3 separate regions of the Homo sapiens genome follow, and all the other regions are linked to region 2. The links come from fine-mapping of genetic effects on gene expression. A gene starts in region 2. Each other region holds a variant in brackets. All regions are shown on one strand. Distances are from middle to middle. Region 1 overlaps LOC107986230 (a long non-coding RNA gene). Region 2 holds the start of THAP6 (THAP domain containing 6). Region 3 holds the start of LOC124900717 (a long non-coding RNA gene).

Region 1 (8,186 bases), 67 kb after region 2:
CTCCCAGTGTTCATGGGCAAGAGTTTTTTTTTGCAGATACACTTAGGCATGGAATTGCTAAGTCATATGTTATGCAAATGTTCAACCTGAGTAAATTTTGTTTTTCCCTGTATTATCTATCTATCTATCTATCTATCTATCTATCTATCATCTATCATCTATCTCTCTATCTTCTATCTATTAACTGTCATCTATCTATCAATTATCTCTCTCTCTCTGTCTCTCTCTCTCTCTAATCTATTTGTTTTTGTTGCATACCAAAGTCTATATGCAATTGCGGTAGAATAAAAACAGTTTGGTTTTTGTCCACGGTTCCTGGCACACGGTTTCTAAAACCCTTAGAATCTTAGGAATAATAAGAGTATCTTTTGTATTTGAGTGAAATGACTGGTGGCTAGAGGCCTCTAGATAGCTTCAGGTTGAGGGTTGATTGCCAGAAAGCCCATGGCATGATTGGATCGTTGGAACTTTAAGCCCCACCCCCAAATTTCTCGGGGTGGGGGGAAGAAGGTGGAGATTGAACTAATCTTCAACAGCCCATGATTTAATCAACCATGTCTAAATAATAAAACTTCCATAAAAATCCCAAACAATGGGATTTGGAGAGCTTTGGGTTGGTGAACACATCAAGGTGCTAGGGGAGGATGCTCTCAAGAGGTCATGGAACCGTTCTACCCCTGCTTCCCCATACTTTATGAATCTCTTCTGCTTGGCTGCTTCTGCTTTGTATCCTTTATAATAAACCAGTAAACATGAGTAAACTGCTTTCCTGAGTTTTATGAGCTGTTCTACAAAGTATTAAACCTGTAGGGGAGGGAAATGTGAGACTCCGAATTTGAAATTAAGTTGAACAGAAATATGGGTAACCTGGAGACCCAATACTCATGACTGGCCTCTGAAGTGAGGGTAGTCTTGTGGACCGAACCACACTGCAAACAAAATTAAAATTGAAAATAAATTGCAGAAATTGAAAATAAAGTTATAATTACTGAGCTGTTTTTATTCACTTCTGACTCCAAATGTGTGGACTTTTTCCTCACATCAACCAAATTTCTGATCCTCTGTGGGTCTTGTAAACAACACATTGTTGGATTTTATTTTTTCTTCTTATCATCCAAACCAAGAGTACAATTTACATTTGTTATAACTATGATTATTTAGAACTCATTCTTGCCGTTTTATTTCATGTTTTCACAATTTTTTATTTTAGCCATTCTGAGGTGTATAGTGATAACTCGTTGTGGTTTTAATTTGTATTTTCCTGATGACTAATGATGTTGAACATCTTTGCATCTATTTATTTGCTTTCTGTATATATTCTTTGGTGAAATGTCCCTTCATGTCTTTTGCACATGTTTTAGTTGGATTTTTTAAATTGTTGAATTTTGAGTGTTCTTTATATATTATAGGAACTAGTCATTCATCAGCTATGTTGTTTGCAGATATTTTTTACCAGTCCGTAGCTTGCCTTTTCTTATTCTTAATTAGGTCTTCCCAAGAACAAAAGTTTTAAATTTTAATGAATTACAATTTACTAATTTTTTCCTTTTATGAATTATGCTTTTAGTTTCAAGTTGAAGAACTTGTTGTCTAGCCCTAGGTTTTCAAGGATTTTCTCTTTTTTTTTCCTAAAAGTTTTATAGTTTTAGTTTTGTCTTATGTTTAAGTCAGTAATTTATTTTTTTGTGTAAGATATAAGACTTACATGAGTGGTGGCCCATGCCTGTAATCTCAGCACTTTGAGAGGCCAAGGTGAGGTGATTGCTTGAATCCAGGAGTTCAAGATCAGCCTGGGCAACATGACAAAATCCCCTCTCAAAAAAAAAAAAAAAAAATTAGCTGGGAGTGATGGCATGCTCATGTAGTCTCAGGAGGCTGAGGTGGGAGAATCGCTTGAGCCCTGAAGGCAGCGGTTGCAGTGAGGTGAGATTGCACAACTGCACTCCAGTCTGGGTGACAGTCTGGGCATCCCCCATCCACCATAAAAAGATATAAGACTTACGTTGTGATTTACTTTTTGCCTATGAATGTCCAATTGCTCCAGCACCATTTGTTGAAAATGCTGCCTTTCCTCTATTACATTGCTTTTGCACCTTTGTAAAAAGTCAGTTAGACATTATCTACTGCGTTCTTTGTTCTGTTGCATTGGTCTATGTCTATCCCTCTGCCAATACTATACACTCTTGATCACTGTTGCTATATAATAGGTATCGATATTAGGTAGACTGATTCCTCATTTTCTTTTTCAAAATTGTTTTTAGTTATTCTACTTCCTTTGCTTCTCCATATAATATTATAATAATCTTGTCTATCTACAAAAGATTTTGCTGGGATTTTGATACAAATTATATTAAACTTGTATATTTATTTGGGGAGAATTTACTATGTTGAGTCTTCCAATCTAACAATATGGTATGTCTCCACATTTGTTCAGGTCTTCTTTATTGTACAGCTGCTCCTTAACTTACGATGGGGTTATATCCTGATAAACTCATCATAAATTGAAAATATAATATGTTGACATAGAGCTGCTATTACCTGAAGATGGCTGAATAGGAACAGCTCCGGTCTACAGCTCCCAGCGTGAGCGATGCAGAAGACGGGTGATTTCTGCATTTCCATCTGAGGTACCGGGTTCATCTCACTAGGGAGTGCCAGATAGTGGGCGCAGGTCAGTGGGTGCGTGCACCGTGCGCGAGCCAAAGCAGGGCGAGGCATTGCCTCACTTGGGAAGCGCAAGGGGTCAGGGAGTTCCCTTTCTGAGTCAAAGAAAGGGGTGATGGACGGCACCTGGAAAATTGGGTCACTCCCACCCGAATACTGCGCTTTTCCGATGGGCTTAAAAAACGGCGCACCACGAGATTATATCCCGCACCTGGCTCGGAGGGTCCTATGCCCACGGAGTCTCGCTGATTGCTAGCACAGCAGTCTGAGATCAAACTGCAAGGTGGCAGCGAGGCTGGGGGAGGGGCGCCCGCCATTGCCCAGGCTTGATTAGGTAAACAAAGCAGCTGGGAAGCTCCAACTGGGTGGAGCCCACCACAGCTCAAGGAGGCCTGCCTGCCACTGTAGGCTCCACCTCTGGGGGCAGGGCACAGACAAACAAAAAGACAGCAGTAACCTCTGCAGACTTAAATGTCCCTGTCTGACAGCTTCGAAGAGAGCAGTGGTTCTCCCAGCATGCAGCTGGAGATCTGAGAATGGGCA[G/C]ACTGCCTCCTCAAGTGGGTCCCTGACCCCTGACCCCCGGGCAGCCTAACTGGGAGGCATCCCCCAGCAGGGGCACACTGACACCTCACACGGCAGGGTATTCCAACAGACCTGCAGCTGAGGGTCCTCTCTGTTAGAAGGAAAACTAACAAACAGAAAGGACATTCACACCAAAAACCCATCTGTACGTCACCATCATCAAAGACCAAAAGTAGATAAAAGCACAAAGATGGGGAAAAAACAGAACAGAAAAACTGGAAACTCTAAAAAGCAGAGTGCCTCTCCTCCTCCAAAGGAACGCAGTTCCTCACCAGCAACGGAACAAAGCTGGATGGAGAATGACTTTGACGAGCTGAGAGGAGAAGGCTTCAGACGATCAAATTACTCTGAGCTACGGGAGGACATTCAAACCAAAGGCAAAGAAGTTGAAAACTTCGAAAAAAATTTGGAAGAATGTATAACTAGAATAACCAATACAGAGAAGTGCTTAAAGGAGCTGATGGAGCTGAAAACCAAGGCTCGAGAATTACGTGAAGAATGCAGAAGCCTCAGGAGCTGATGAAATCAACTGGAAGAAAGGATATCAGCAATGGAAGATGAAATGAATGAAATGAAGCAAGAAGGGAAGTTTAGAGAAAAAAGAATAAAAAGAAATGAGCAAAGCCTCCAAGAAATATGGGACTATGTGAAAAGACCAAATCTACGTCTGATTGGTGTACCTGAAAGTGATGGGGAGAATGGAACCAAGTTGGAAAACACTCTGCAGGATATTATCCAGGAGAACCTCCCCAATCTAGCAAGGCAGGCCAATGTTCTGATTCAGGAAATACAGTGAACACCACAAAGATACTCCTCGAGAAGAGCAACTCCAAGACACATAATTGTCAGATTCACCAAAGTTGAAATGAAGGAAAAAATGTTAAGGGCAGCCAGAGAGAAAGGTCGGGTTACCCTCAAAGGGAAGCCCATCAGACTAACAGCAGATCTCTCGGCAGAAACCCTACAAGCCAGAAGAGAGTGGGGGCCAATATTCAACATTCTTAAAGAAAAGAATTTTCAACCCAGAATTTCATATCCAGCCAAACTAAGCTTCATAAGTGAAGGTGAAATAAAATCCTTTACAGACAAGCAAATGCTGAGAGATTTTGTCACCACCAGGCCTGCCCTACAAGAGCTCCTGAAGGAAGCACTAAATATGGAAAGGAACAACCAGTACCAGCTGCTGCAAAATCATGCCAAAATGTAAAGACCATCGAAACTAGGAAGAAACTGCATCAACTAACGAGCAAAATAACCAGCTAACATCATAATGACAGGATCAAAATCACACATAATAATATTAACTTTAAATGTAAATGGACTAAATGCTCCAATTAAAAGACACAGACTGGCAAATTGGATAAAGAGTCAAGACCCATCAGTGTGCTGTATTCAGGAAACCCATCTCACGTGCAGAGACACACATAGGCTCAAAATAAAAGGATGGAGGAAGATCTACCAAGCCAATGGAAAACAAAAAAAGGCAGGGGTTGCAATCCTAGTCTCTGATAAAACAGACTTTAAGCCAACAAAGATCAAAAGAGACAAAGAAGGCCATTACATAATGGTAAAGGGATCAATTCAACAAGAAGAGCTAACTATCCTAAATATATATGCACCCAATACAGGAGCACCAAGATTCATAAAGCAAGTCCTGAGTGACCTACAAAGAGACTTAGACTCCCACACATTAATAATGGGAGACTTTAACACCCCACTGTCAACATTAGACAGATCAACGAGACAGAAAGTCAACAAGGATACCCAGGAATTGAACTCAGCTCTGCACCAAGCAGACCTAATAGACATCTACAGAACTCTCCACCCCAAATCAAGAGAATATACATTTTTTTCAGCACCACACCACACCTATTCCAAAATTGACCACATACTGGGAAGTAAAGCTCTCCTCAGCAAATGTAAAAGAACAGAAATTATAACAAACTATCTCTCAGACCACAGTGCAATCAAACTAGAACTCAGGATTAAGAATCTCACTCAAAACCGCTCAACTACATGGAAACTGAACAACCTGCTCCTGAATGACTACTGGGTACATAACGAAATGAAGGCAGAAATAAAGATGTTCTTTGAAACCAACGAGAACAAAGACACAACATACCAGAATCTTTGGGACGCATTCAAAGCAGTGTGTAGAGGGAAATTTATAGCACTAAATGCCCACAAGAGAAAGCAGGAAAGATCCAAAATTGACACCCTAACATCACAATTAAAAGAACTAGAAAAGCAAGAGCAAATACATTCAAAAGCTAGCAGAAGGCAAGAAATAACTAAAATCAGAGCAGAACTGAAGGAAATAGAGACACAAAAAACCCTCCAAAAAATTAATGAATCCAGGAGCTGGTTTTTTGAAAGGATCAACAAAATTGATAGACTTCTAGCAAGACTAATAAAGAAAAAAAGAGAGAAGAATCAAATAGATGCAATAAAAAATGATAAAGGGGATATCACCACTGATCCCACAGAAATACAAACTACCATCAGAGAATACTACAAACACCTCTACGCAAATAAACTAGAAAATCTAGAAGAAATGGATGAATTCCTGGACACATACACTCTCCTAAGACTAAACCAGGAAGAAGTTGAATCTCTGAATAGACCAATAACAGGAGCTGAAATTGTGGCAATAATCAATAGCTTACCAACCAAAAAGAGTCCAGGACCAGATGGATTCACAGCCGAATTCTACCAGAGGTACAAGGAGGAATTGGTACCATTCCTTCTGAAACTATTCCAATCAATAGAAAAAGAGGGAATCCTCCCTATCTCATTTTACAAGGCCAGCATCATTCTGATACCAAAGCCAGGCAGAGACACAACAAAAAAAGAGAATTTTAGACCAATATCCTTGATGAACATTGATGCAAAAATCCTCAATAAAATACTGGCAAAACGAATCCAGCAGCACATCAAAAAGCTTATCCACCATGATCAAGTGGGCTTCATCCCTGGGATGCAAGGCTGGTTCAATATACGCAAATCAATAAATGTAATCCAGCATATAAACAGAGCCAAAGACAAAAACCACATGATTATCTCAATAGATGCAGAAAAAGCCTTTGACAAAATTCAACAACCCTTCATGCTAAAAACTCTCAATAAATTAGGTATTGATGGGACGTATTTCAAAATAATAAGAGCTATCTATGACAAACCCACAGCCAATATCATACTGAATGGGCAAAAACTGGAAGCATTCCCTTTGAAAACTGGCACAAGACAGGGATGCCCTCTCTCACCACTCCTATTCAACATAGTGTTGGAAGTTCTGGCCAGGGCAATTAGGCAGGAGAAGGAAATAAAGGGTATTCAATTAGGAAAAGAGGAAGTCAAATTGTCCCTGTTTGCAGATGACATGATTGTATATCTAGAAAACCCCATTGTCTCAGCCCAAAATCTCCTTAAGCTCATAAGCAACTTCAGCAAAGTCTCAGGATACAAAATCAATGTACAAAAATCACAAGCATTCTTATACACCAACAACAGACAAACAGAGAGCCAAATCATGAGTGAACTCACATTCACAATTGCTTCAGAGAGAATAAAATACCTAGGAATCCAACTTACAAGGGATGTGAAGGACCTCTTCAAGGAGAACTACAAACCACTGCTCAAGGAAATAAAAGAGGATACAAACAAATGGAAGAACATTCCATGCTCATGGGTAGGAAGAATCAATATCGTGAAAATGGCCATACTGCCCAAGGTAATTTACAGATTCAATGCCATCCCCATCAAGCTACCAATGTCTTTCTTCACAGAATTGTAAAAACTACTTTAAAGTTCATATGGAACCAAAAAAGAGCCCATATCACCAAGTCAATCCTAAGCCAAAAGAACAAAGCTGGAGGCATCACACTACCTGACTTCAAACTATACTACAAGGCTACAGTAACCAAAGCAGCATGGTACTGGTACCAAAACAGAGATATAGATCAATGGAACAGAACAGAGCCCTCAGAAATAATGCCGCATATCTACAACTATCTGATCTTTGACAAACCTGACAAAAACAAGCAATGGGGAAAGGATTCCCTATTTAATAAATGGTGCTGGGAAAACTGGCTAGCCATATGTAGAAAGCTGAAACTGGATCCCTTCCTTACACCTTATACAAAAATCAATTCAAGATGGATTAAAGACTTAAATGTTAGACCTAAAACCATAAAAATCCTAGAAGAAAACCTAGGCATTACCATTCAGGACATAGGCATGGGCAAGGACTTCATGTCTAAAACACCAAAAGCAATGGCAACAAAAGCCAAAATTGACAAATGGGATCTAATTAAACTAAAGAGCTTCTGCACAGCAAAAGAAACTATCATCAGAGTGAACAGGCAACATACAAAATGGGAGAAAATTTTCACAACCTACTCATCTGACAAAGGGCTAATATCCAGAATCTACAATGAACTCAAACAAATTTACAAGAAAAAAACAAACAACCCCATCAAAAAGTGGGCAAAGGACATGAACAGACACTTCTCAAAAGAAGACATTTATGCAGCCAAAAAACACATGAAAAAATGCTCATCATCACTGGCCATCAGAGAAATGCAAATCAAAACCACAATGAGATAACATCTCACACCAGTTAGAATGGCAATCATTAAAAAGTCAGGAAACAACAGGTGCTGGAGAGGATGTGGAGAAATAGGAACACTTTGACACTGTTGGTGGGACTGTAAACTAGTTCAACCACTGTGGAAGTCAGTGTGGCGATTCCTCAGGGATCTAGAACTGGAAATACCATTTGACCCAGCCATCCCATTACTGGGTATATACCCAAAGGACTATAAATCATGCTGCTATAAAGACACATGCACACGTATGTTTATTGCAGCATTATTCACAATAGCAAAGACTTGGAACCAACCCAAATGTCCATCAATGATAGACTGGATTAAGAAAATGTG
Region 2 (8,186 bases):
TTCACTTTCAGGTATACAAAGTCAAGAGAGATACTGAGGGTGAGGCAGCCAACCCATGGGAATATTACCCAGAAAAAACATGGAATTCAATTAGCGTTTACTTATTTGACTGTTCTTTCTTTTCCTGACCTTTTCTTCTCCTGTTCTTAGATCTCTTTTTTGGTTTTCTTCCTTTTGATCCTACCTAGACTTTATGCTTGCATGTATGTGGCTCTTACAAGTACTTTAGTCCTGTTAGTGGTTCTACTCCTGACTTCTGCCCCAGTGTTAAGGACTGCCAACTTGGAACATCAGTTCAACCTTCTTACGTTAACTTCCATTTTTAGACAAAAATCTTCAGTTATGCTAATTCCTAAAGTCAGCCCACTTCATCAAACCTTAGTAATATACAAATATTTATGAGTGGTTACTGGTAAAATACTCCTACTACACATTACAAAAGTTGAAGATGCAGTCTACAAATTTAAAACTTCAAGAACAGACTTCAAATGAATAAGCAAACAATAAAAATGTTAGCAAGAGTGGTGAAGGTTCTTCAATAGTATCATAAAAAGTGAGCAATGGCCAGGCACGGTGGCTCATGCCTGTAATCCCAGCACTTTGGGACGCCGAGGAGGGTGGATCACGAGGTCAGGAGTTCAAGACCAGCCTGGCCAAGATGGTGAAACGCCATCTCTCCTAAAAATACAAAAATTAGCCAGGTGTGGTGGCAGGTGCCTGTAATCCCAGCTTCTCGGGAGGCTGAGGCAGAGAATTGCTTAAACCCTGGAGGCAGAGATTGCAGTGAGCTGAGATCGCGCCACTGCACTCCAGCCTTGGTGACAGAGCGAGACTCTATCTCAAAAAAAAAAAAAAAAAAAAGTGAGCAATGATGGTAAACAGTATCTCATAAACAAACCTGTAGGTGATATGGAGAATCAAAGATAGAAGGTATGACTCCAGGTTTCAGTTTAATATTTGGAGCACTTCTGTCAAAATCTGTCTTCTTAAAGTGCCTCGAACACAACACATCTCCTTTTTTAGGCTCCCAAATGCCGGCTGCATTCACATCAAGTCTTTTCATTGCTAATACCCATTTCCTTTTGATGTTTTCATCTGTGGGGAATCTAGAAAAAAAATACAAAAAATATTTTAAAATCAAATACTATTGCTATATAATTGAATTAAAGCTGCCTTATACAACTGTGACTAAATTGATTCGTTAACTAGTTTATTAGTCTTGAGAATTATAATATTTAGGAAACCATAATTCATGCTTTTGTTACTTTCCGTTTTAATATTCAGATTTTCTGCCAATCATGCTGCAGATATATGGCCCTCATTTCATTTTTTCTCACATTATAAGGAAGAAAAGTTTCAATGGATATTTAGCATCTTATAGTAAGATCCACAATTGAAGGTATTTATTCATCTATAGATGATAAAAGAATTATCACTTGGGCCTTTTCCTATCTGAAATGATATCCAGAATTTATCCTCGATAAAAAGGGCCCCTTGTAATTCCATTCTTCTGTCAGCACCAGAAAATTGCTTAGTACAGCATTTAATACATAGCAGGTCTACAGATGCTTAGTGAATGAATGCAGAGAATAGCTGCAGTGTGGAGTTCTGGAGATCAGAGCTATTTTGAGAGATATGAAGGCCTAATAGCCATATCTTACTCAATTTTCAAGCTGGTTCAAATTTTTCTAAAATAAGGTAGGATATATATGCTCAGTTTTGATTTATTATATCTAACAAAATAGCTAGGAGATCTTTCTCTAACACATAGGACAGTGCCTGGCACAAAAGCAGCAAAATAAACCTTTAACAAGTGAACAACTATTAAATCTTATTACTCCTTCACTTACTCCTTCATGGCTGTCAAGAGAATGGCTAAAATATGAAACTAAAATCATTTTGATTTATTTGCAACACAGCTAAAGATCCCTTGGTCTTAACTTGTAATTTGTATTTTTTCTCTATAACCTATGCTTGATCTACTTCTAAATAGAGAGGGCAATATATTCGAGCAAAGCTCCTTCATTCAGATTGTAAACTACATGTAAACAACATTGAATTTCTTTGGCGGTGTGATAAAATACAAAGTAATAATATTAGCAAAAGTTAGCCTTATGGTATTTTTTGTAAACCAGTCTCTGATATCTTAAAGTCTCTGATATCTTAAAACTTTTAAACTAAATTATAAACATGTAAAGGTATCACATTGTCACTTCAAATTTAACAAAAAGGTTATTTAAAAAGGACTCGGGAACTAAAGTTCAAAATTGAAGACTTAAGTAGAACTGTCTTTTGCTTTTTATAACATGGCCAAAGTATTTGGCTTAACTACAGCAAAATCTTACACGTGAAATGTCAGTCCTTTTAACTTCGAATTTGGCAAGCAGCGAGAAGCACATCCAATGGCGGAGCAGCATTTCACCATTTTAGCAACTCATAACAAAACTGAAAGAAAATTAGAATGTTAAGAGTTAGTAACCGGAAAGCTGAAGGGGAATATTTTCCCTTTCCCGGTGTTTTAGGAAACACAAAATCAGGATAGAAAGCTAAAGACAAATATCTTCTTCTAACACCTGCAGCTTTGCTTACATCATTTTCCAGGGCCTTGACTCTTTAATAAGGAGAAACATATTTAGCTGTGTACCCCGAGTATGATTTCAATTTTGTTGGCTTGTACATTTTCCTTCCACCTTCTAACAGGTACCATGTTCTTTGTGCCACAAAGCCTTTTGCACACTAACTCCTACCCATCTTTCAGCCCTCGGCTTGCATCGCTTCCCCAGGGAAGCCTTCCCTCACTGACACTCAGATTGTCAGAGCTGCTCTAATATTAGCTCTCACAGGACACACACTTCTTCCTAGCACTTCTCCAGGTTGTAATCTTACATTTATTGCAGTGATTGCTCTTATTAATGTCTTCCTCCTCCACCAGTCTTGTTAGTTCCATGAGGTCATGGTGGAGTGTGTCTATTTTTCCTTACTTTTTGTCCTCACGGTTTAGCTGGTGACTGGCAATAGTGAATGTCAGTACATATTTTGAAAGAACAGCAAGTAAACGGGAAAGGGAGGAAGCAAGAAGCACTTCGAGGTGCCAGCGAGCACCCTGGCGTCCAAGAGCAGCGCGCGGGACCCGCTGAGCCCAGGGCCCGGGCCGAGCTCCGCCCCTTTCTCCAGGCTCCCCGCCACCGGAGGGAGAGAGGGAGGACCCGTCACAGGTAACGATGCGCCCAGTGAGCGTCCTTTCCTCTGGGGCCAACCAGCGTCTCCGCGCCGCTGCCGCCAACCTCGCGCCGAACTACGCCCTGAGATTTGGGCGGGTAGCGATTGGGGGAAAACAGGCAACCTAAGAGTTATTACCGTTAGCAGCGAAGACTGCGACTAACGTCAACGACGGAGACTGCGTCTGCCTTCGCTTCCGCCTCGTAGCCCCGGGAACCGGAAATCCGTCTGCCCCGGGTCACGTGCTTAGGAGCCATATTGTCGCTAGTGGCCGCTGGGGCTGGGAGGGGTGTGCTAGAGAGGCGCAGCTTCTCTGGGCGTGGTTTTTATCCTGGGGGAAGGATCGGTGGAATGTGAGGGGAGGTGGAGGAGATGGCGGCGACGGCCCGGGAAGATGGCGCCAGCGGTCAAGAGCGAGGTCAGCGGGGCTGCGAGCACTATGACAGAGGATGTCTCCTAAAGGTGACGCCTTCTATGGACTCTTCCCTGACAAGCTTCCGTCAGGTTGGGCTGGGGCGGGCTGGGCAGGTGGTTAGGCTTGGATTTAAGTTTGAGGTTAACCTGATTTTCAGGATACCTTTTCCACCTGGAACTGGGTTCTTCTTGAGGAGAACGTTTTTGGCAAGGCGATAAGCCCCACCTTTCCTACCTGCTTCGTACCTTTAAAGCAAAACCCTTCTTGGGAAGTGATTAGGCTTGCACAGTGGTCTCTGCCAGTGGGCTTATTCGTCTTTTGCTGCCGAAGTAGACTGAGGCAGCCCCGGGCCTGTACTGGGGTTTTCCGTTCAGGTGTGTGATGAAATAATGGAAGTGGAGATAATGGAAATAAGCAAGTGGAGAACCCGAATACGATTTCAGCTCCTGTGGTAAAGTTTTATAGCCTGCCAGCTTCATGTTAAAGGCAGTGCACATGTTCAGACGTAGGAGAAAACGTGTGTCCCAAAAAAGAAGACAATCATGTAATTGCCATTAAATAGGAAATTATGCATAGGAAAGTGCCTAATAAGCATGTATTGTTACTCTGAGAAAACTTCTTAATCTGTATTTTTTTTTAAATTGGCACGTATTCAATTGAAGTTTCCTGATTTTCCTTGCAAGAAACAGTACAAAAATTTTGCTTAGAAAACTTGAGCTTTGGAACCTCAACCGCCCTATCCCCAAATCTTAGCTCTCCTCTTTAATAACTGATTTTAGCTAGCTCCTCTCTACCCCGTATGTAAAATGGAGATGATCGCGCCTGTTTCATAAAAGTGTATGAGGATTATATACTAAAGGGCGTGTATAGTGTTTAACAGGGCGCATTCCCTGAAGTAAATGAGTAGTAAATATATACCACCATGACTGTTACTATCATCGTCAATCTGAGTATTATTATTTTTTGTTCTTTCACTTCACAAGTCAGCCTTGCTGGTCACTGCCTCATTATTAGAAGCAAGTTCAAGTCTCAGGCCTGTACGTGCATCCTAAACTCTTTTCTATAGGTCATGGCTTGACGAACATTGCTCCACTGAACTGGATGAAGCTCCTTAAAAATGTTGGTCATCCACCAAGTGTTGTGTAAGGAAATTGAATGCTATCCTTATGATTCAATTTCTACTGAGATGTATTATTATTCTTTCAAACTTGAGGTCTAAAACGGAATTTAACATCTTGGTGCCCCCCATAAACCACACAATTAGATCTGTGTATCATAGCACTAAGATACTTCGCCCTAGGTGTCAAACAGTTTTTGCCTTCCCCCGCCCCCCCCCCCCCCTTAAATACCAGAGGCCAAGTGAAGTATTTCAAGGAGGATGTGGTCAGCTGGGTCAAATGCAGCTGTTTGAGTAAGATAACTGAGAATTGCCCTTTGGATTTGGCAAGGAAGAGGTCACTGGTGATCTTGACAAGAGGAGTTTTAGTGGAGAGATCAGGATTAGAGTGAATTTAGGAAAGAATGGGAGGAGTGGAATTGAAAATAGCACTTATAGGGTATTCTTGGGGTTTAGCTGTAAAGGGGAGCAAAAAAAAGATGTGGTTGCTGGGAGATCTGGCACCATATTTTTTCCTCTTTAAGAGAGGAAGTATTACAGCATGTTTGTATATTCTAGGAAATGATACAATAGAGTGAGAACGTTTTATAATGCAGGAGAGAGTGAGAAAACTGTAAGGGCATTGTCCCTGAGTAGCCAAAGGGGATGAAATCCAGTGCACAAGTGAAGGAGTTGGCCTTAGAAACATAGACTGTCAGTTCTTCCTAAGGGAAGGCAGAGAATGAGGTATATTTGCAAGTAAGTTAATAGAGATAATAGGAGGATGTTCTTTTCAGGCCTGTCAGCAGGAAGTATGTTTACTGTTTTTATAGTGAAATAAGGTCATCAGCAGAGTGTTAAGGAGGAAGAGTTGTTAGAGTTTTAAAGCCAGAGGAGAAGAAGTGAAATGATCATCTAAATCTTAGGTCTTAGACTCTGGAAGAATGAGAGAATTGACCAGGGAAACGTGGTAGTAAGTGTCCACCTCATATGAACCAGCAAGGACGGTGATGCTTTTTCTCTAGCCATATTCACCTGCTTCTGATAGAAGTCAAATAGGATTTAACTAGGGTTGGGATTGTTATCTATGAGTGTAGAGGAACTGAGAAGGGAACTAGGGTGTTGCAAGGGGAGACTTGGAGTAAGTTAGGGAGGAGGTAATGGTTAGAGAATTTCATGCTTGGAATTGAGATGCAAAGAGGGTGCCGTTGTTCTGTAGCATTGGTTTTCAAAGTGTGGTGAATGGAACCCTGGGGATTCCTGAAGTCCTTTCAGGGGCTCTGCAAGGCCAAAACTACTTTCTATGAACACTAAGATATTTGTTTTTTTTTTTTTTCAGTCTGTTGACACACGCATTGATGGTGGAAAAGCACTGTTTAGTATTGCTAGTATCTTAGCTTGAATCAAGACAGTGGCACTGAACTATACTACACCTATAGTTTTTTTAAAAAGCCAGCTTCACTTAAAAATGTTGATAAAGCAGTAAAATCGTTAATTTTAACCAAATCTCAACCCTTGAATATATCTTTTAATATGCTGTTCAATGACATGGGAAGTTTTGATCAAACACTTCTGCAAACTGAAATTAGAGGGTTGTCTTGAGGAAAAGCTCTTGTGCAAATTGGATTGTAAAGTGAACTAGTTGCTTTTTTTCATGGAACAGCATTTTTTACTTGAAAAAATTGTAGTCATTCACATTTGGGTAGTTGGCAGACATTTTCTCAAAAAGGAGAAAAGTGAGACTCACTACAAATGAAAATGACAGTATTTGTTGCCAGTGATAAAATTCAAGCTTTCACACAAAAATTAGAATTTTGGAAAACTTTTACTAGCTTTTGTGAGGTTGGAAGCTTTTTAAAAGACTTTTTTTGGTGAGATTTTCTTCAATACCTAAAGACTTTTAATGAATATGATTTTTTGATATTGCATGTTAAATGTGTGAACATTTAGAAGATGTAAATAACTCACTGAACTGGTATTCTCCAGATGACCAATGCATGAGTAAAACATCCATTTGAAGTGCAAGATAGAGCAATAGATTTTAATGTAACCAAGGAAGAAAAGAGGCATCATATCAATCATATTCCTTGATACGATTTCAGATTTCATGTTGCAACTACCCTTTAAGAGTTGTTGTTCTAGTGTAATATCAGAGAATGATATCCATAATTCTCCAAAAAGGCTATTAAAATACTCCTTTCTTTTCCAGTGTACATATTTGTGTGAGGCCAGAGTTTCTTTTTGTACTTCAGCCACAACTGTTTGAATGCATAAGCAGATAGAAGAATTCAGCTGTTTGGGGGGAAAAATATAGTTATTTTTCATTAAAACATGTTATTTATGTTAACAAGTAATGAGTTTGTTACTTTTAAAAAGAAGTAATATTTTAAAAACCTATTCTTTTTAATTTATGATGTGGTATATGTCAATAGATAAAATCCACATAAACCAAAGCTCTTTGGGATTCTCAGTAATTTTAAAAAGTGTGAAGGGATCCTGAGACCAAACCATTTGAGAACTACTGTTCTGCGGTATAACTATGAGAATAGTGGGTTGGAGGACAAGGTTATTGGAAATGACAAAGTTAAGGAACTGAGAGTTGCAGAAAAAGGAAGCCAGTTAAGTGTTAAAATCTTTAAGGAATGAACTACGTTATGGTAAGTCAAGGCATAGGAAGCCTTCAGAAATGAGTGGATCTGCAAGGTCACAGTGTATTGGAAAGTCACTGGCCTGGAAATCTCTTGATATACTTGTAATGGTAAAGTTGCTGTAATGAAAAAACCCAACAGTGATGTAGATTAAAGAGTAAAGGTTTTATTTCTTTCCATTTAACAATTCCAAGGCGAGTGATGCAGGTTGGTGATGAGGCTTTGCTCCACATGGTCACTCCAGGGATGAGATTTTTCTGTTGTATCATTTTGTCATGTTTTAGGGCATGTGGCCATCTGTCTGATATAGCTGAACAATTGTGCCCAGGAAGGAGAGGATAGATTTTGGTGGACAACTGGCAGTCTTTGCCGTGTTTGAAAACAAGGGCTGTCTCTTACATTTGTTGCATTTTGTGCAATATTAGATATGAGGTTGATGATTAATAAAAGCTAGTAAAATAAGAATATAATCTTTATTATTTTTAATGTAAATGAATTTATCTGGAAATGTCTAAGAAGAGGTTGCCTGTTTGCTGTTTAGGCTCAGAATGAAATTGGGGTGTTATATTAGTCTGTTTTCACACTGCTGATAAAGACATACCCAAGACTGGGAAGAAAAAGAGGTTTAATTGGACTTACAGTTCCACATGGCTAGGGAGGCCTGAGAATCATGGCGGGAGACAAAAGGCACTTCTTACATGGTGGTGGCAATAGAAAATGAGGAAGAAGCAAAAGTGGAAACTCCTGATAAACCCATCAGATCTCATGAGATTTTATTCATTATCACGAGAATGGCACGGGAGAGTCT
Region 3 (8,186 bases), 29 kb before region 2:
GAGGGAACTGTGCAGCAGACAGCTTTTGGACTGGAACTGCAGTATAGGCTCTTCTCTGAGTCTTCAGCCTGCCTGGCCTACCCTGTAGATTTTGGACTTGCCAGCCTCCGTAACTGCATGAGGTACTTCCTTAAACTAAACCTCTCCTCTCCATATACTCACCCTATTGGTTCTGTTTCTCTAGGGAATCCTAACACATGCCCATATTCTTTCTCTGTCATGCTTAAATGTGTTGCTTGACAGGTTTAGTGAATAAATACATAGGAAAAGATTTGAGAAATCAATTGCTTCTAAATAAGAGCTTGGGTGTTTATGGACAATGAAGGGGCATGGACAGTGCTCCTTGACTGGAGATGTGTGGGAGGACTAAGAATTTCAGGCTGCTGTGTGAGCACTGAACTGCCTCTAACACAGACACTTCAGAAAGGTGCTGGTGAAGAGAGCAATCCCTCCGTCTCAGGATGGAATGTCCTTCACCCAGAGGCTGAACATCGGGATTTTGGGGAGAATCTCATAGTGACTTCCCTGCTTCAGTCCCCCTCTTCTCAGTCTCTCTTTCCCTCTTTCCTGGTGGTTTGAACATGTGTTTGGAATTTCAGAGAGCTCAAACTGAAGACACTGGGTTTGGATACAACGAAAATGGTTTTTGCTAAGTAATTTGTTTCAGATGCTTAAATTGAGACCATCCTTCTGTATTAAGTGAGATGGAAGCTAGCAGCCTGAGAAGGAAAAAAACCCTAAAGATGAAACCTCTTAGGCCAGCAATGTCAGAAAGGCTAGGCTTTCTAGCTGTCCACACGCAGTTCTAGGGTGGGCCCGCAGAGCTGCCTCTCACACCCTCAAGGGCCCACTGGAGGTCTGTCTGAGGCTGGATCAGCTTCACCTGCTTCTTTTATCATTCAAGTTCTGCTCAGAGAAAGGCCCTGTCCTGCTGCTGGGCCTTGAGGAAGCCAAGGTGAGCTGCTGGTAAGTCCAATTAGGCTAGTCTCCCATCTGTGGTCACAACTGCGGACGCTGCCTGGGAGAGGCATTCTTCTCACAGAGCCACGGTGAGTAATCCGGGGAAGCTGCTATTTGGGCTGCCTCAGCCAGGATTATGTGTGTCAGGGAGGATGGGGAGTGGTGGGCACCCCTGAGTCAGGTTGAGGGAGGTCTAGGGCTGCTTGGGGTTCTCTGTCAGAAGCACCACAAAGGGACAGGTGCTCTTTTGGGGGATCTAAAGATTCTGCGGTTGGCACTGACTTGAAGGTGGCCTAGATGACTTCCTGCAAGGCTTGCTTAGGCATCTTCTGCTGGGATTTCTCCTAAAAGGGGGTTCAGGCACCTTAACCACACCTCTAGTTCCTTCAGTTTGCAGAGCAGGAGCCTGAGGCCTGGAGAAGGTTCCTAACCTCATCCTGGTGATTTAGCAACAGAATGGCAGTAACATCCCGGTGAGGGGCAGAGTAATGCCCACGTCAACAAGAGCCTGCATTCATCGATGGTTTGAAACAGAGTATTAAACCAGTGGGGTGAATCCGCGCTGTGCTCTCTGCCCTGCCATTGTTTAGCTGCAGGACCTTGGACCAGTCAGCTTCCCTGCCTCTCAATTTCCTCATCTATGTTATCATTTACTATATCCTAAGCATCACTGTTCTAAGAATTGGACATACATTAAGTCATGTAATTCTTAAAACAACCCAATGAGGTAGTTACTATTGTCATCCCCATTTTAGAGATGAGAAAACCGAGGCACAGAGAGGTTGTCCTGTGGCTAAGAAGTGGCAGAGCCATGCTATGAACCCAGGCAATTTGGCTCCAGAATTCTTGATTTTAATTTCTATAGTAGGTGTGCTCTTGAGACTCTGGCTGTTGTCCTATTGCAGTGAGAGCCCTGTGATAGTATCCTTAAAATTCACCCAGGTTCTGTAGGGCAAAACACTTGGTTAATTTTTTTTCAAGGTAAAATAAATAATGGAGTGGGAACCTACAGATTAAAAGAGACTTTAGAGACATATCAACCCATTACAATGTTTGGAGGGAGATTATTGTTAAATGTTTTTAGATGAAACAGTGATATATACCTTTGTCTAAAAAAAAAAACAGAGTCCTAGGCCAGATGTGGTGGTGGGGACTCACACCTGTAATTCTAGCACTTTGGGAGGCCGAGGTTGGGGGGTATCACTTGAAGCCAGAAGTTTGAGACCAGCCTGGCCAACATGGTGAAACTCCGTCTCTACCAAAAAATACAAAAATTAGCTGGGCATGGTGGTGCACTCCTGTAGTCCCAGCTGATCAGGAGGCTGAAGCATGAGAATCACTTGAACTTGGGAGGCAGAGGTTGTAGTGAGCCGAGATTGCGCCACTGCATTCCAGCCTGGGCGACGGAGTGATGAGCCGAGATTGCGCCACTGCACTCCAGCCTGGGTGATGGAGTGAGACTCTGTCTCTAAAAAACAAACAAAAATTAAAAAATAAAGTCCTTATCTTTTAGAGATACATGCTGAAATAGCTACAGATTATATGTTGTTTGGGATGTGCTTCAAAATAATCAGAGGAGGGGAGAGAGTGAGGGTGTGGATAAAACAAGACTGTCCATGTTTTATAACTGTTGAAGCTGGGTGATGGATGCATTAGAGTATATTATACTCTCTACTTTTGTTTGGAACTTTCCATTATAAAAAGTGTTCAAAAAATCACCCTATATAAATGTTTGGTTTATTCTGAGAAATGTCAAAATGTCACATGGACCTACCTCATGGCTAGTGGGAAGAGCAATAGTCCACAGGGAGGGAGTGGATGGGACACTGCTAAGAAGAGTCAGCTTCCAAGAATGTAATTTACTGGGGGCGACCCATAGTGCCTATATTGTCTATCATGGCCATAACAAGGATAGAATACTTCTATGCTGTTCCCCTTGTTCTGGTAAACAAATGTACACGAAGCGATTTACTAACAAAAAATCTTCACTCTGCAGCTATGCTCTACCACTACAGAGCCAGCCTACTCTCTTCTCTCTGCTCCACTGCCATTATTTTGGCTTGCCCAGCCCAGTACCTATCCAGTTCTTCTGAGGACTTAACCCTGAGTTCCCTCTGGAAAACCATCATTTCTCTACTCTCTTGGTTCCAGGAATCGGCTGTAATCTATGACTGCCAATCATAGCATAGCATTCCTATGGCCACAGATATTTATTTAGGGTTGAGTATTTGACTCAAGCCATTTCAATCAGACTCAGTCCGAACTAGTCCTGGGACTGTCATATGAATGACTGGAAAGGAGGCACACATTTTGTCTTTGGACTTGAAGTTGTGAGGAACATACCTACATGAAGGGAGAGGCTGCTTGATAAAGCAGAGTTGAGAGACTCCAGATTCTGAAAACATCATTTGAACTCCTAGATCCAGCTGTACCTGAAGCCATACACAGTATGCCACAAGTGGTTTGCTAAAACTGGTTCTAAAATATTACTAATATACTATAGTAGCAAATCACATAGAGAATGAAAATTCTTAAGCCTAGTATTAAAATGGAGGAAGAAGAGCTATTAATTTTTTATGCTCTTGTATTTGATTATAGACTAGAGATGTAGACATAGAGTAAAAAATTGTGTCAGTTCCAGTGGCTGAGTAAAGCATTAGCAGAGATCAGGACCAATCTTTTATCATTCCATGCATTCTTCCTGAGAGCTGAGAGAAACCAGGTGACTAGACAGACTCCTTTGCTGGTGAGACCTGTGGATATTTGAATGTTTTGCCTGTGTATGTGGTAAGGTGACTTCATCCTGAGTGTGCATCTGCCCTGTTTATGCTTGGCAGTAGCATCAGACAGATCCAGATTGTGGTAATGAGTAACTATGGGCTTTCCTCAGCTTCAGACACAAGATGAGTTCACATTTTATCCTTCAGCCTCTAAATGCCCCAACTGGAGCTTCCAAATGGAGTGACTGAAGTCTGGCCTTTAAGACATTGTGAATGTTCAGCAACAATTCAACAATGAGTGAATCAAAGTCTCTGGGTCTCCAGAATAAATAAAAAAAGACAAAACAAAACAAAACAAAAGTCTCTGGCTCTTGCATTGTAGATCAGAACAAACAACAACGTGACTTCATATAATGATATGAAGACATCGTTATACCAGCTGTGAAACCTTGGGCAAATTACCTAGCTTTTCTCTGTTTAATTTCCTCTTCTGTAAAATGAGAATAATAATAATAGTACCTACCTTATAGGGTTGTTGTGAAGTTAAATGAGTTAATAAAGTTTAAGTGCTTTGAATAAAGATTGGCACCTTATAAATGTTAGCTATGATGGTTACT[G/A]AGAAATAATTTTTTGCCTTGAACAAACATTTCCTCTTGAACATGGATATCTGAAACAAAACACAGGCAGAAATACGAGGATTTATGAAAATTGCGATCAGCTCTATTAGAGCATGCAATACTTCCCAGATATCAGTACTCTGAAGTCACGTTCTTTAGTTTTCTGAGGTATTGGGTCAGTTGGAAAGCTGTATTGTGAGGTTCTCAACAAGGGATGGAGGCAGTCATTTGTAGGGTTCTGCTGGTGACCAGTCACAGGCAAGCTAATTAAAATCTTTAAAACACACCTACCCAGACAGTGGTTTCTTAAATCTCAAATAGTTGGGCTGGCAGGGGTTTGGGAGATTTCTTTGAAATATGTAGGTGTCACGGGAAATACTAGTAATTCAAGACTTACATCCAACTTTAGCCAATGTCCCAGGGGGATGATGAAGGTAATGATAACAAGTAATACCTCATTTTTCAGAGATGAAATGGTTTTGATTTTCTTTTTTTTTTTTTTTGGAGACAGTCTTGCTCTGTTGCCCAGGCTGGAGTACAGTGGTGCAATCTTGGCTCACTGAAACCTCCGCCCCTCTGCGCTCAAGCGATTCTCCTGCCTCAGCCTCCTGAGTAGCTGTGATTACAGGTGCCTGCTACCATGCCCAGCTAATGTTTGTATTTTTAGTAGAGACGAGGTCTTGCCATGTTGGCCAGGCTGGTCTTGAACTCCTGACCTCAAGTGATCCACCTGCCTCGGCCTCCCAAAGTGCTGGATTACAGGCATGAGCCACTGTGCCCGGCTGGTTTTGATTTAAATTTGTAGAATGCTGTTATTATAATTTTCTTTTCCTCCCTTCTTTCCTTTTTTTATTCTCCTTTCCTCCCTCCCTTCATCTCTCTTTCTTTCATGTGCACTCTCTGTCTCTGTTCCCAGGAAGTATATAACCCCCTCTCTAGAAGTAACCACTTTAAAAGTTTGCATATATCTTTTCTTTCTTTTTCTATATACTTACACACACACACACACACGTACACACTTATAAATTGTTTTGTAGGTAGGTTTCAAAACATTTTATATAAGTGAGATACTATTTTGAGTTGTGCTTTATATTGTTTTTATCCATGTTAAGGTCTTGTTTTCCCATGGCGATAATATGGATTGATGTCTTTTTGAATTGGTGCTTATTGTTTCATTCCATGGGCACGCCACGGTTTTATTTATCCATTTACTGCTTGATGGGTATTTGGGTTGCCTTCTACTTTATGCTTTCATGAACAGTCCTCACGTAGCCCTCACGTGGCACATACAGAGCCCCTTTGCTATCAGGTACATTTAAAAATAACTTACTAAAATGGTTTTTAGTTTTAATATATAGAATACATTTGCATTTCATCCTAAAATTTACCAGTCTTTATGGTGTCCTGGTGAGTTTGATCCTTTGGATAGCCATGTCTTGTTTCTGGTTACACCATTTTCCCATGTGATTTTCAACAAAATATGTCCAGATGATGGTGATGGCCATAGAAACTTGAATTGTACATCTCAATAATCAAGACATTCCCTACTCTTAAGACCCATCTACAAGTGTTATAATAAGAGTGACAATCCAAAATTTTTTTACATCCTCAGGATTTCAAAGGTAATTTCTTTCAGCTGTGTAGCCTGGCAACATTTTATACCGTTATAAAATCTACCTGTTTAATAAGCACCAGTATCCTTATTTTTATTGAAATTTTATGTTGAGTACATTTTACTGGCAAGTCTGTAGCTGAATGCTTGTCTCCATAAGGTACTAATCACTAGTATCTGTGGTTAGCATCCTGCATAGCACATACACTTCACTCTTTATTTAATAAAACTCTTCTGTTTTAAAAAGCACAAGGCCCAAATCTGCAAATTCAGATGCGATATTACCTTTCAACTGCACAAGCTGTACCACAAGGATTTGAGAAGTTTATTATTGGACACAAATCTGTCAGGAACTCCTCTGCTGTTAACTGACCACAGAACATGGAGCTCAGGTGAGTTCAAGGATTATCTGTTTAGTAAGTGACTTGATGCTCTGAGACACTGCTACACAAAGTAGCTAGCCTATGAACTCTTTCTGACTGGTTCAGAATGAGAAAAAGCTCTTGTTCCAGAATGTAAATCAACATATGATTTCATTTACTAAGGAAGTCTTGCTCAGAAAACATTCTGACTGAAAAAAAAATTGACTGAGCTAAATGGTGTGCTTTGTGATGTAGTCGATCTACATTCTGCTCCAAGTGCCTTGATTTGTATACACTGATCTGGGAACATTCTAAGTAACACTGTCAAGATGTTTTATAAAGTTGAATGAACGGGTGAATGAACGAAACATATCTAAGATAGATTAAATGGCTTGTCAGTATTGGAGTGAGAGGATGAAGAGGAGGATGGTGATTGAAATTTTCCCTTTCAGTGATACAATGTTCCTTGCCTGCTTCTGAGCTGCCACAAGAGAGGGAAGATTATTTAAGGCACAAATAGCCTACCTGACCACTGTTGCCTGTCCACTTGCCATTCCCTATGAAATGCATTTCTCTCTTCTTGGTTTTTGTTCTTCTTCCTGTTCTTGTTTCCTTTTCCTGTGTTTCTGGGATGGGATGGAATTTAAAGAAGAAAGAAAAACAGTATGTGGATGGCTCATTGTATGGTCTACGTTTTATACGCAATGAAATAAAATTCTCACCACCAATGGGTAAGGTGCTATTGTCTACTTTGTAAGTGCTCAGAGAAGTTCAGCAAGTTGACCCACTTCCCATATATAATGAAGTGGGAGGCTGGGAACTTGAACCCAAGTCTGTTTGGTTCTCCCCAGCTGGTTTGGTCTCCTACTCTCACATCCCAGGAAGGTGCTTACATAATCCAGGTTCTGGGACAGCACTTTCAAAGTGCCCACACTGACAAACTTATGTTCTATTTTGTAATTTTGAAGCTCCATTAATTTCATAGTTTCAGTACCTTTAATTGCCACAGACCCTGCTATATTGCCCACTTATCTGTATTTGTGTTATGTACTTGTATGTCCCTGTAGGTTGTGAATGTCTTCACCTTATTCCTGTTGTTCTCTCACACTATCGTATGGGGCTTCGAAAGCAGTATATGTGATGGGTTATTACACTAAACATGTTAGTCTGTAAACTTCTTCATGTACCTGAGAAGACAGATATAAAATGATAGACCCAAACACTTAAACTGTAAGATGCTGTGGTATAAATCTATTGAGCCATGTGTGTTGTCCAATAAAGTAGTGCACAATGAGGAGAAAGGCATTAGGCTGAATTCAAGAACCCATTGTCTTGAGATATATGGCTGCGCTCCCTGGTATCCTTGGAGTATGGCTTTTGGAACTTCATACTAGCATGTAATCTCCTTGAAGACAGGAAGTGAATCTATGTTGTTTCTCCAATGCCTAGCATATTCCCTGGCATACAGTTCCTGGCTCCTGAAAAATACGTGTGGAAATGTTGAATGTGCTAGGTTCTCAGCATTTCTTCCTCAACTGCTGTGACTAGTGCTCATCATGGACCCTCATGTGGTTCTTAGATTACAAATTGTAGGTCTTCTGCTCTTGGGTTTCCTGGTCCTAATCTAACATTTTCTTCATTCGTTTCAATCTCTGTCAGCTCCTGCTCTGCATCAGGCACAATTCTATGATCAGAAGCACAGCTAGCAGGAAGGTGAGGGATGTGGCAGCAGGGGGACAGTTGTTTATCTTGAGCGTGTTCTCCAAAGGGAGCTGTGACAGTTGTTAAAATATTAAATGAAGTTTGAGGCAGCAATGTGAAAGTAAAATAATGAGACCTATGAAGAGGGTAGTCAACAAGAGGCATCAATGGCTCAGGCGCTACCCAGGCTTGCCTTTAGGTTTTAGAAACCTGG

The links. PIP is the estimated chance that this variant, and not a neighbour inherited with it, causes the effect.
Region 1: its variant is the best candidate, but not a certain one, in a credible set for the expression of THAP6 in whole blood (INTERVAL, PIP 0.65).
Region 3: its variant is the best candidate, but not a certain one, in a credible set for the expression of THAP6 in whole blood (INTERVAL, PIP 0.55).

What each region holds. Positions count from the first base shown.
Region 1 is chr4:75,442,908-75,451,093 of GRCh38, reverse strand. It overlaps LOC107986230 (a long non-coding RNA gene), which reads left to right. Exons shown (of 3, transcript XR_001741514.2): 3 at 2,435-2,598. Among named protein-coding and RNA genes, the nearest start is that of RCHY1, 67 kb to the left of the region's middle. RefSeq lists an enhancer at 2,821-3,389. The variant G/C (reference allele first, on the strand shown) is at 3,208.
Region 2 is chr4:75,509,692-75,517,877 of GRCh38, reverse strand. THAP6 (THAP domain containing 6) reads right to left here and starts at 3,405. Exons shown (of 5, transcript NM_144721.6): 1 at 3,358-3,405; 2 at 2,346-2,445; 3 at 899-1,106. The coding sequence starts at 2,425. RCHY1 (ring finger and CHY zinc finger domain containing 1) reads left to right here and starts at 3,475. Exons shown (of 9, transcript NM_015436.4): 1 at 3,475-3,681. The coding sequence starts at 3,592. RefSeq lists enhancers at 2,710-2,929, 2,505-3,435, 3,270-3,749, 3,436-4,366.
Region 3 is chr4:75,538,570-75,546,755 of GRCh38, reverse strand. LOC124900717 (a long non-coding RNA gene) reads left to right here and starts at 6,196. Exons shown (of 2, transcript XR_007058142.1): 1 at 6,196-6,301; 2 at 6,724-6,897. It also overlaps a transcript of THAP6 not described here. The variant G/A (reference allele first, on the strand shown) is at 4,298.